3 linked regions of the Homo sapiens genome follow. The protein of the gene in region 3 interacts with the protein of the main gene of each other region in a biochemical or structural test. Each region holds a gene or a part of one and is shown on either strand. Other genes may lie near its edges.

What was found. Proteins that work in one complex are often made in the same cells at the same time.
Region 1: the proteins of PRKAR2A (region 3) and CHD8 form a complex in vitro, tested with the Homo sapiens proteins (one study listed by BioGRID).
Region 2: the proteins of PRKAR2A (region 3) and WASF1 form a complex in vitro, tested with the Homo sapiens proteins (one study listed by BioGRID).

Annotation. Positions count from the first base shown.
Region 1 is NC_000014.9:21,387,412-21,390,123, forward strand, and holds part of CHD8 (chromodomain-helicase-DNA-binding protein 8), read right to left. Parts: intron 1-2,712. UniProt on the Homo sapiens protein: ATP-dependent chromatin-remodeling factor, it slides nucleosomes along DNA; nucleosome sliding requires ATP. Acts as a transcription repressor by remodeling chromatin structure and recruiting histone H1 to target genes.
Region 2 is NC_000006.12:110,124,171-110,127,670, forward strand, and holds part of WASF1 (actin-binding protein WASF1), read right to left. Parts: intron 3,460-3,500; 5' UTR 3,432-3,459; coding exon 3,299-3,431; intron 1-3,298.
Region 3 is NC_000003.12:48,760,875-48,764,374, forward strand, and holds part of PRKAR2A (cAMP-dependent protein kinase type II-alpha regulatory subunit), read right to left. Parts: intron 1-3,500. UniProt on the Homo sapiens protein: Regulatory subunit of the cAMP-dependent protein kinases involved in cAMP signaling in cells. Type II regulatory chains mediate membrane association by binding to anchoring proteins, including the MAP2 kinase.

The sequences.
Region 1 (2,712 bases), on a different chromosome or scaffold from region 3:
CACCTGAGGTTGGGAGTTCGAGACCAGCCTGACCAACATGGAGAAACCCCATCTCTACTAAAAGTACAACAAATTAGCTGGGCGTGGTGCCGCATGCCTGTAATCCCAGCTACTGGGGAGGCTGAGGCAGAAAAATCGCTTGAACCCAGGAGGCGGAGATCGCGGTGAGCAGAGATCACGGCATTGTACTCCATCCAGCCTGGACAACAAGAGTGAAACTCTGTATCAAAAAAAAAAAAAAAAAAAAAGCTGGGTGTGGTCGTGCATGGCTGCAATCCCAGTTACTCAGGAGGCTGAGGCAGGAGAATCACTTGAACCCAGGAGGCGGAGGTTGCAGTGAGCTGAGATCATGCCACTGCACTCCAGCCTGGGTTACAGAACGAGACTCTGTCTCAAGCAAAAAAAAAAAAAAAAAAAAGAATTCTGTACTAGTCATATTAGGATTTTCTGTGATTTTCTATGATATTTCTTAAGAGTTTCAGTTGACTATAAGGGAGTAGCAGAAGTACTTGAGGTAAAAATAGGTAACAGTGAAGGAAAAGCCCTTCTTACAGGCTGCTCTATAATGTTAAATTAAAGACAGAGATGGCATTAGCCTTCTAGCCACCAGCCTTTCCCATATCAACCATTCTGTTTATTGCACTCTTGTTCTCATCGAGGCTAACAGGGAAAACTGAAACATTCTCCCATGGTAACACTTCCATTAATATAAAAATAAGCCTCATAAATCTACATATATTTTATGTTTCAAACTTGTTAAATGCAAAATATTGATAGTTTACTTTAAAATTAATTTTGTTAAAAGATATTCCATGTGGTTATATAGACACATAAATATATGTGTATGCACATAGTCAGCCTTCCATATCCATGGATTCAACCATCTGTGGATTGAAAATATTTGAAAACAACAAGAAACTAAAAAATAACAAGAGAAAATACTACAGATTTTAAAACAATACCGTGTAACAACTATTTACATAGTATTTATATTGTGTTAGGTATTATAAGTAATCAAGAGATTAAAGTGTATCAGAGGAAGTGTGTCGGTTACATGGAAATACTACATGATTTTATTTATTTATTTATTTATTTTTTGAGGCAGGGTCTCACACTCTATTGCCCAGGCTGGAGTGCAGTGGCATGATCATGGGTCACTGTAGTCTCAGCCTCTGGGCTCAAGTGATCCTCCTGCCTCAGCTTCCACATAGCTGATACTAGAGGACTGCACTACCACGCCCAGCTAATTTTTTGTAGAGATAAGGTCCCACTGGGGTCCCCAGGCTGGTCTTGAACTCCTGGGCACAAGTGATCCTCTTGCCTCAGCCTCCCAAAGTGCTGGGATTACAGGTAAGAGCCACCGCACCTGGCTCTACACCATTTTATATATAAAGGACTCGAGCATCCATGGATTTTGGTATCTGCAGGGGTCCTGGAACCAATCCCTCACAGATACCAAGGGATGACTGTATGTGTATAAAGATTTCTATAGAAGATCAAATGGGGGAATAATTAGATAAGGCAAGTATATACAAGTGCTAATCCATTTTAAATGACTCTATGTCATTTAAAACAATGATTTATGTATGCTTTAAAAATACAACTATTGACCAGGCGCTGTGGCTCACGCCTGTAATCCCAACACTTTGGGAGGCTGAGGCGGGTGGATCACAAGGTCAGTAGTTCGAGACCAGCCTGACCAACATGGTGAAACCCCGTCTCTACTAAAAATACAGAAATTAGCTGGGCATGGTTGCACACACCTGTAATCCCAGCTACTCGGGAGGCTGAGGCAGGAGAATCACTTGAACTTGGGAGGTAAAGGTTGCAGTGAGCTGAGATCAGTCCATTGCACTCCAGCCTGGGCAACAGAGCAAGACTCCGTCTCAGGAAAAAAAAAAAAAAATTACAACTATTGGCCAGGCACAGTGGCTCATGCCTGTAATCCCAGTACTTCGGGAGGCTTAGGCAGGTGGATCACCTGAGGTCGGGAGTTTGAGAACAGTCTGGCCAACATGGCAAAACCTTCTTTCTATTAAAAATACAAAAATTAGCTGGGTATGGTAGCATGCGCCAGTGGTCCCAGCTACTTGGGAGGCTGAGGCAAGAGAATCACTTGAACCGGGGATGCAGAGCTTGCCGTGAGCTGAGATTGTGGCACTGCCCTCCAGCCTGGGTGACAGGGCAAGACTCTGTCTCAAAAAAATAAAAGATTAAAAAACAAATACAACTATTGCAGAAAGTAAGGTAAGCATAGCCAAGAGAAACTTTTGCAGTTGAAATTTGGTGGAAAGAATAAACTGTGGGTACTTAGTCCACCAAATGGCCTATTATCCATCATAAAAGTATAAGTAAATTTGAAAATATAGAATAACTTAATGGACAAATTTATTATGAATTACAAAACAGTTTCCTCTGCTTTTTCCATTACTGACATATTATTAGTGATTCTCAACCTTTATATATTGGGAAATCTCATGACTATTTTCCTTAGAAGACCTCTCCAAACACTTCTAAAATATATAGAATTAGAAAACTTAAGGCCGAGTGCGGTGGCTGAAGCCTGTAATCCCAGTACTTCAGAAGGCCAAGGCGGGTGGATTACTTGAGGCCAGGAGTTCCAGAGCAGCTTGGCCAACGTGGTGAAACCTCGTCCCTACTAAAAATACAAAGAATTAGCCTGGCCTGGTGGTGCACGCCTGCAATCCCAGC
Region 2 (3,500 bases), on a different chromosome or scaffold from region 3:
GGGAACCCAGCCCCATCAGCGTCTCTCTCTCTCTCTCTCTCTCTCTCCTCTCTCTCCTCTCTCTCCTCTCTCTCTCTCTCTCTCTCTCTCTCTCTCTCTCTCTCTATATATATATATATATATATATATATATATATATGCCCTTGTATTCAACTGTGACGGGGCAACCTGGAACCTGCTTTCAGGACCCCTCTCTTGGCTGAGAGCTTTCCTTTCACTTAATAAATTCTACTCCATTCACTCTTAGAGTATCTGTGTGCCTAATTCTTCCTCATCGTGAGACAAGAACCTGGACCTAGCTCAGCTAAGGAGTAAAAAACCTTGCATCATTAAGAAAGCAATAAAATGAGAAAGAGGAAATTGATATAAAGTGAATTATAGGTTTGTGGTAATTACCTAATACAAAACAGAATTATGTTCTACTAGGAAAAATCTCACAAAAAACAGATGTACTGGCTGGGTATGGTGGCTCACACCTGTAATCCCAGCACTTTGGGAGGCCGAGGCGGGTGGATCACTTGAGGCCAGAAGTTCAAGGCCAGCCTGGCCAACATGGCAAAACCCCATTTCTACTAAAAATAATACAAAAATTAGCCAGGCATGATGGCACTCGCCTGTAATCCCAGCGGCTTTGGTGGCTGAGGTACAAGAATTGCTTGAACCTGGGAGGTGGAGTTTGTAGTGAGCCAAGATCGCACCACTGCACTCCAGCCTGGGTGACAGAGCAAGACTCTGTTTCAAAAAAATAAAAAAAGGAAGTACATTTTTGTGAGGAAAAGGTCAGGAAGATATCCAGCCCTGAGCCATGTGGATCCCTGCAGTTTACTTTCATTGCTATATTCTCAAGCACTTTCAGTACTAATAATAGCACCAAAGTGAAAATCTCCATTATCTAGAAACATTTTGGATAGCCAAGTTTTCTAAGTAATTCAGATTTTATTATCTAATACATCAATTGTTATTTTAACTATTTTCGATGGAAACTTGTGAAATGTATTCTAAGCTTCCCTCTTCTTAAATGGAATATAAAATTAAACATAATTTAATTTTTTCTTAGGGACTCACGGGCATGAATTATGAAAATCAAATATTATCCTAGGCCAGAAAACAGCCTTGAAATGTATAAGGATATTTGCTTTACATTAAATGGCTTCTTTCCAGTTTTTATGTTGCATCTTCCCTTACATCACTTTGTCCTTTCCTGTGAACTACCTCCTTTTGGTTGGGTTCAGTGATGCCTCCTTCTAGTATCTCCTCCCATGCTTCCTCCTTTTATCCTCTGAAGCATAACTGTTTGGAAACCACATCATCAAATCTGTTTGAACTATCAAGGTAAAAGTAAACAGGTTTTGAGAGAGGGATCAATTGGTTATTTTATGTGCATGGTCTTTAGTGCATGAGTTTATTTATTCTGGCTATCTAGAGGCCTTTTAAATTTAATTCCAGGTTCTCAACTATGTCAAGTGGGAAAGCTGCCAGAGAAGTTAATTTCAGGGCAGTAAGCTATTGTCACACCTTGCTAGAATATTTTATGGGTTTTCTCTTTGTTTTTGAATCTCTACAAACTGCTTAAACAATGCCTTCCAGGTCTCTGATTCTAAATGTGAAGCACCCAACACCTAATTTAGTTATATTGTTACAAGGTATTTATAATTTTCAGAGTTTCGCTACAGCATAACCATGTGCCTGCTGATAGATGTTGCTTATATGGACTATATAGACTTAAAAATTCCTTAAATTTTCATCTTTAAGTTTTGTAACAAATGGGTTAGTACTGCAAATTATCACCCTTAATCACAATATTAGTTCTAAATTCTATATTGGGTATATACCTAAAATAAGATGCCTGTACTGGATCCACAATTCATTTTAAGAAATATGTTATACAAAATTACTAATGCCATTTCTATGTTCTTAACATGTATTTTAATATTAGCATGCTTATATACTTATGTATGTACATAACATATATAAAACAAATTTTATATGACATCATGTTATACTTGATTCAATCCGTGCTAGGTCACAAAAAATCTGCAAAATATCTTTAAACAATATAGTTAATCATATTTAAACTGGGAACTCTAACACTTTTTTTATTAGCCTCAAGTAAACAATACAATATTTTAGTGATTCACTAACCTGAAAAAAATGACCACTGAATGGAACAAGGAATATACTTAAAATTCAAATAAAATAGCCTTTTATTTATTCTTACTATTTCACAGGCAATGCAAAAATTTAGTACTCTCACAGAGAATATTCAAATGTAACTTTTTATGTTGCTCTCGCTACAGGTATGCCTAAACTTTCTTACCGGAAACAAATTAGATTAACAACCTCTTGTGCTAAGTACTCAATTATAAAAGAAAGGACAAAAGTTAAAAGGAAAAGAAAAGAAAAGCCAAGCCTGCTTATCAGGAGAATTTATATGGCTGATGAGATAAATCTAGGACCACTTGGTGGATATTATCTCTGCCAAGAACACCTTGTTTCACCTTTAAAATGAAATATCAATGTCTTATGAAAAAGCTAATCCTTCAATGCAAAAGACAGACCAGATTTTTTAAATTTTCTAAATAAACTTAGAATAGAAAATAATTTGTTTAATTCCTTAACCAAGTTGCTCTATTCTGTAAATCTGCAATGAGAACATATTGCCTGTCTCCTTCTCCCTAATCTGCCTCTTTCACTGGCCTTTATTCTCTGGCCAACCTGCTTGACTTCTGTCTGCCAGAGGCCAAGTTCATTTGCTGTTTTCACACAATGCTGCATATCAGATTCCTGACTTATATCCTAATGTCTCTTAGACATCCCACTTGACTAGCCTACCCCTCTGACTAATAATGACCCCATACCTCTCACCTTAGATCTTTGCTAATATAAAAATATTTCCCTAAACTAATTAAATATATATATAAAGAGAGGGATACTAGTGTTTGAAAACACAAATAGTTGAGGCCTCTAAACAGAGTAAATAGTGATAATAACCAAGGAAAAGTACAACTCTGGTCCTTTCGCAGATTATATATTTTTAAAACAATCTCAATAATTTTCATTCATCATGTGTTTCTGTTCCTAGAGATTCTGTCCGTATTTTCCTTTCCCAGAAGAAACATCATGCAGAAGAGGTTCTTGTAAAACTCAATAATTATACTCATGTGACTATATTTTTCAGGATAATTTTGTACTCTTCTCACCAAATCATACTCCCAAATTAATCAGAAGCACAACTTCTTAATACGCTAAAGCATAACATTCTGGTTTGTGAGTATATTTTTAATTGATATATACTTACTTAGGCTACTTAGTTGTCTAATTATATTTGCCAAGGAAATATTGGTTACACATTCCAGTTCATTCTTAATGCCTCTAGGCAGTGCTGTGTGGCACAAGTGCCTAGGATCGATGTTTCTTTTCACTAGCGGCATCTTGAGATTAACCTTTGTGCCAGTTCACCTGTAGGAAATCAAAAATAAATTAACAATATTAAATTTCAG
Region 3 (3,500 bases):
TACTTGGAAGGCTAAGGGAAGAGTATTGCTTGAGCCTAGAAGTTCAAGGCTGCAGTGAGCTATGATTGCACACTGTACTGAAGCCTGAAAGACAGAGTGAGACCTTGCTTCTAATAAACAAAAACAAGGCTGAGTGCAGTGGCTCACACCTGTAATCCCAGCACTTTGGGAGGCAGAGGAAGGAGGATCACGAGGTCAGGAGACTGAGACCATGCTGGCTAACACGGTGAAACCTGTCTCTACTAAAAACACAAAAAATTAGCCGGACGTGGTGGCGGGCGCCTGTAGTCCCAGCTACTTGGGAGGCTGAGGCAGGAGAATGGCGTGAACCCAGGAGGCGGAGCTTGCAGTGAGCCGAGATCACACCACTGCACTCTAGCCTGGGTGACAGAGGGAGACTCCATCTCAAAAAAACAAAACAAAAACAATAAAAATAACTCAAAATGGATCACAGACCTAAGGTAAGAGCTAAAATTCTGACTGTCTAGAGCTGTACTGCTCAATACATTAGCCACGAGTCAAATGTGGCTGAGCACTTGAAATGTTGCTAGTATAAACTTAGATGTGCTATAGATGGAAAACATACATTAGATTTTGAAGACAGTATTAAAAATGTAAAATATCTCATTAATAAAGTTTTATATCACTTAGATGTTGAAACAACATTTTAGATATACTGAGTTAAATGAAATATATTAAAATTAAGTTCACCATTTCAAATATCTACTGAAAGTTTTTATTTATTTATTTTTTTTGAGACCAAGTCTTGCTCTGTCCCCCAGGCTAGAATGCAAGTGGCATGATCTTGGCTCACTGCAACCTCTGCCTCCCAAGTTCAAACGATTCTCGTGCTTCAACCTCCCAAGTAGCTGGGATTACAGTTGTGCACCAGCAAACTCAGCTAATTTTTTTTATTACTTTTTAGTAGAGACGAGGTTTCGCCATGTTGGCCAGGCTGGTCTCGAACTCCTGGCCTCAAGTTATCTGCCTCAAGCTATTCAGCCTCCCAGAGTGCTGGGATTACAGGCGTGAGCCACCCTGCCTGACCAAAAATTTTTAAAATTACATATGTGGCTCACATATTATTTCTATTGAATAGTGCTGGTCTTAGAAGTAAACTTAGGAGAACATATTATTGATTTTGCAAAGATTTCCTAAAATACAGCAGCAAAAGTACACAACTACAAAGAAGAAAAGATGATAAACTGGACTTGTCAAAATTAAAACCATTTTCTCTTCAAAAGATACCATTAAGAAAATGAAGGCCAGGTGCGGAGGTGCACACCTATAATCCCAGCACTTAGAAGGCCAAGGCGGGCAGATGGCTTGAGCTCAGGAGTTCGAGACCAGGCTGGGCAATATAGCAAGACCCTGACTGTAATTTTTTTAAAAAAGGCTGTAAATACTATTTATTGGTGAGAATGCAGAGAAACTGGAATTTTCATACATGGCTGGTAGGAATACAAGACAGTACAGCCATTTTAAGAAACAGTTTGTTATGAAGTTAAAATATAATTTAGCAATTGCACTCTTAAGTATTTACTAAGGAGGCCAGCCTGGCCAACATGGTGAAATCCCATTTCTACTAAAAAAACACACACATGCACAAAATTAGCTGGGCAGAGTGACACGTGCCTCTGGTCCCAGCTACTCGGGAGGCTGAGGCACAAGAATCGCTTGAACCTGGGAGGCAGAGGTTGCAGTGAGCTGAGATTATGCCACTGTACTCCAGCTTGGGCAACAGGGCAAGACTGTATCTCATTAAAAAGAAAAAGTAATGGGAGGCTGAGGCAAGAGAATAGCTTGAACCTGGGAGGTGGAGGTTATGGTGAGCTGAGATTGCGCCATTGCACTCCAGCCTGGGCAACAAGAGGAAAACTCCGTCTCAAAAAGAAAAAAAAATTACATTTGTACAATGAAATATTATTAGCAATAAAAAGGAACGATCTACTGATACATACAACACGAATAAATCTCAAAAATATTATGCTAAGAGAAAGAAGCCAGACACAGAGACTATACATTACATGATTTCATTTATACTAAATTGTAGAAAGGAATTTCTACAGTGACAGAAAACATCAATGGTTTCCAGGAATGTGAGTGTGGGGGAGGGTACTGACTGCAAATACAAAACAAGGAACTGTATGGGTGATGGAAATACCACTTGGGGATGGTTACAAAACTCTTCCGATTTGTACACTTAAACTTAGTAATTTTATTGTATGTAAAATACACTGTAACAAAGCTGATCAAAACAAATGAAACAACATAAAATGTAGTTTCTGATTCAGCAGGTCTGGTGGGGGGCTCCAGAACTTGCATTCCTAACAATTCTAACATCCTCAGATGATGCTGATTGCTGCTGGTCCTGGGACCTCACTTTGAGAAGCCTTGGTCCAGTGAGAGACATTGACAAAAGGGACCTACAATAAGCCCCTTTTAATATCATCTTAATTAATGTCCATTCTGTACCACTACCTATCTACCTTGAAGATAGATAGCACTCTATCTTCAAGAGCACAGACCATGAAGAAAACACTATTGACTTCTCACATCTCCTGACATACTTCCTGAAAACCCAGTATGAGACAGGCCTAGAACCTTCAGGATGACTTGAAGGTCCTTTGAATGTTACTTAAAGCACCTTAGGTTCAGAAGCAAATGTGGCCAGTTAACATCTCCCATTTCTGAATCTCAGCACTACATTCTTACCATACCAGGATACCTGCTCTGAAACACAGCTCACACCACTGGCCTTTGCTAATATTGTTTTCTTGCTCTGAAGGACCTTTCCCTGATCCCAAACATTGAAATTGCACTTGTTTTTTAAGCCCATCTCAAATGGCATTTCCTCAATGAAACCATATGTATTACTTCCATTTCTATGTTCTCACTGTCGTTCATACTCTCCTTCATTATAGTGCTTATCATATCTGGTCCTACCTATCTTAATAAATGTTTATAGAATATTCCAATTTCTAATTAAAAGAATTATTAATAGTAACGGCTCCTAGAAAACAAATACATTTAGAGATGTGACTCAGAGTAGACATCATATTTTTGTTAGTCCTTTATCTCTTCCAAGGGAGCTTTTTTCTCCCCTTTTATGGTAAGTCTGATTAGTCCTTGTGTTCTAGTGGGGCCAACTCCACCCACAGGACCCACACCTGACCAATCTGAGCCTTTCCTCCTCGTAGTCTCAGTACTGGGTTCTAGGATAAGCATATCACCCAACCTAGACCAACCATGTATCTTCTCCGTGCTCTTGAGCCAGAACCATAGGCAGATAAGCTTATACCTGGAAAAGTCCAATACTATTTATGTTTAATTAAAAATACAAACACAGCGGACAAAGAAAATTATCAGACAGTACTCATTACAATGATCTAGCCCACTGTTTAGTAATCTTTACATCTTACAAATTTGGTTAATCACTGAAGACTGTGAACTCTGATTTGTGTTAGATTAGCCAAAAGGATGCCTTTGTGTCAAATATA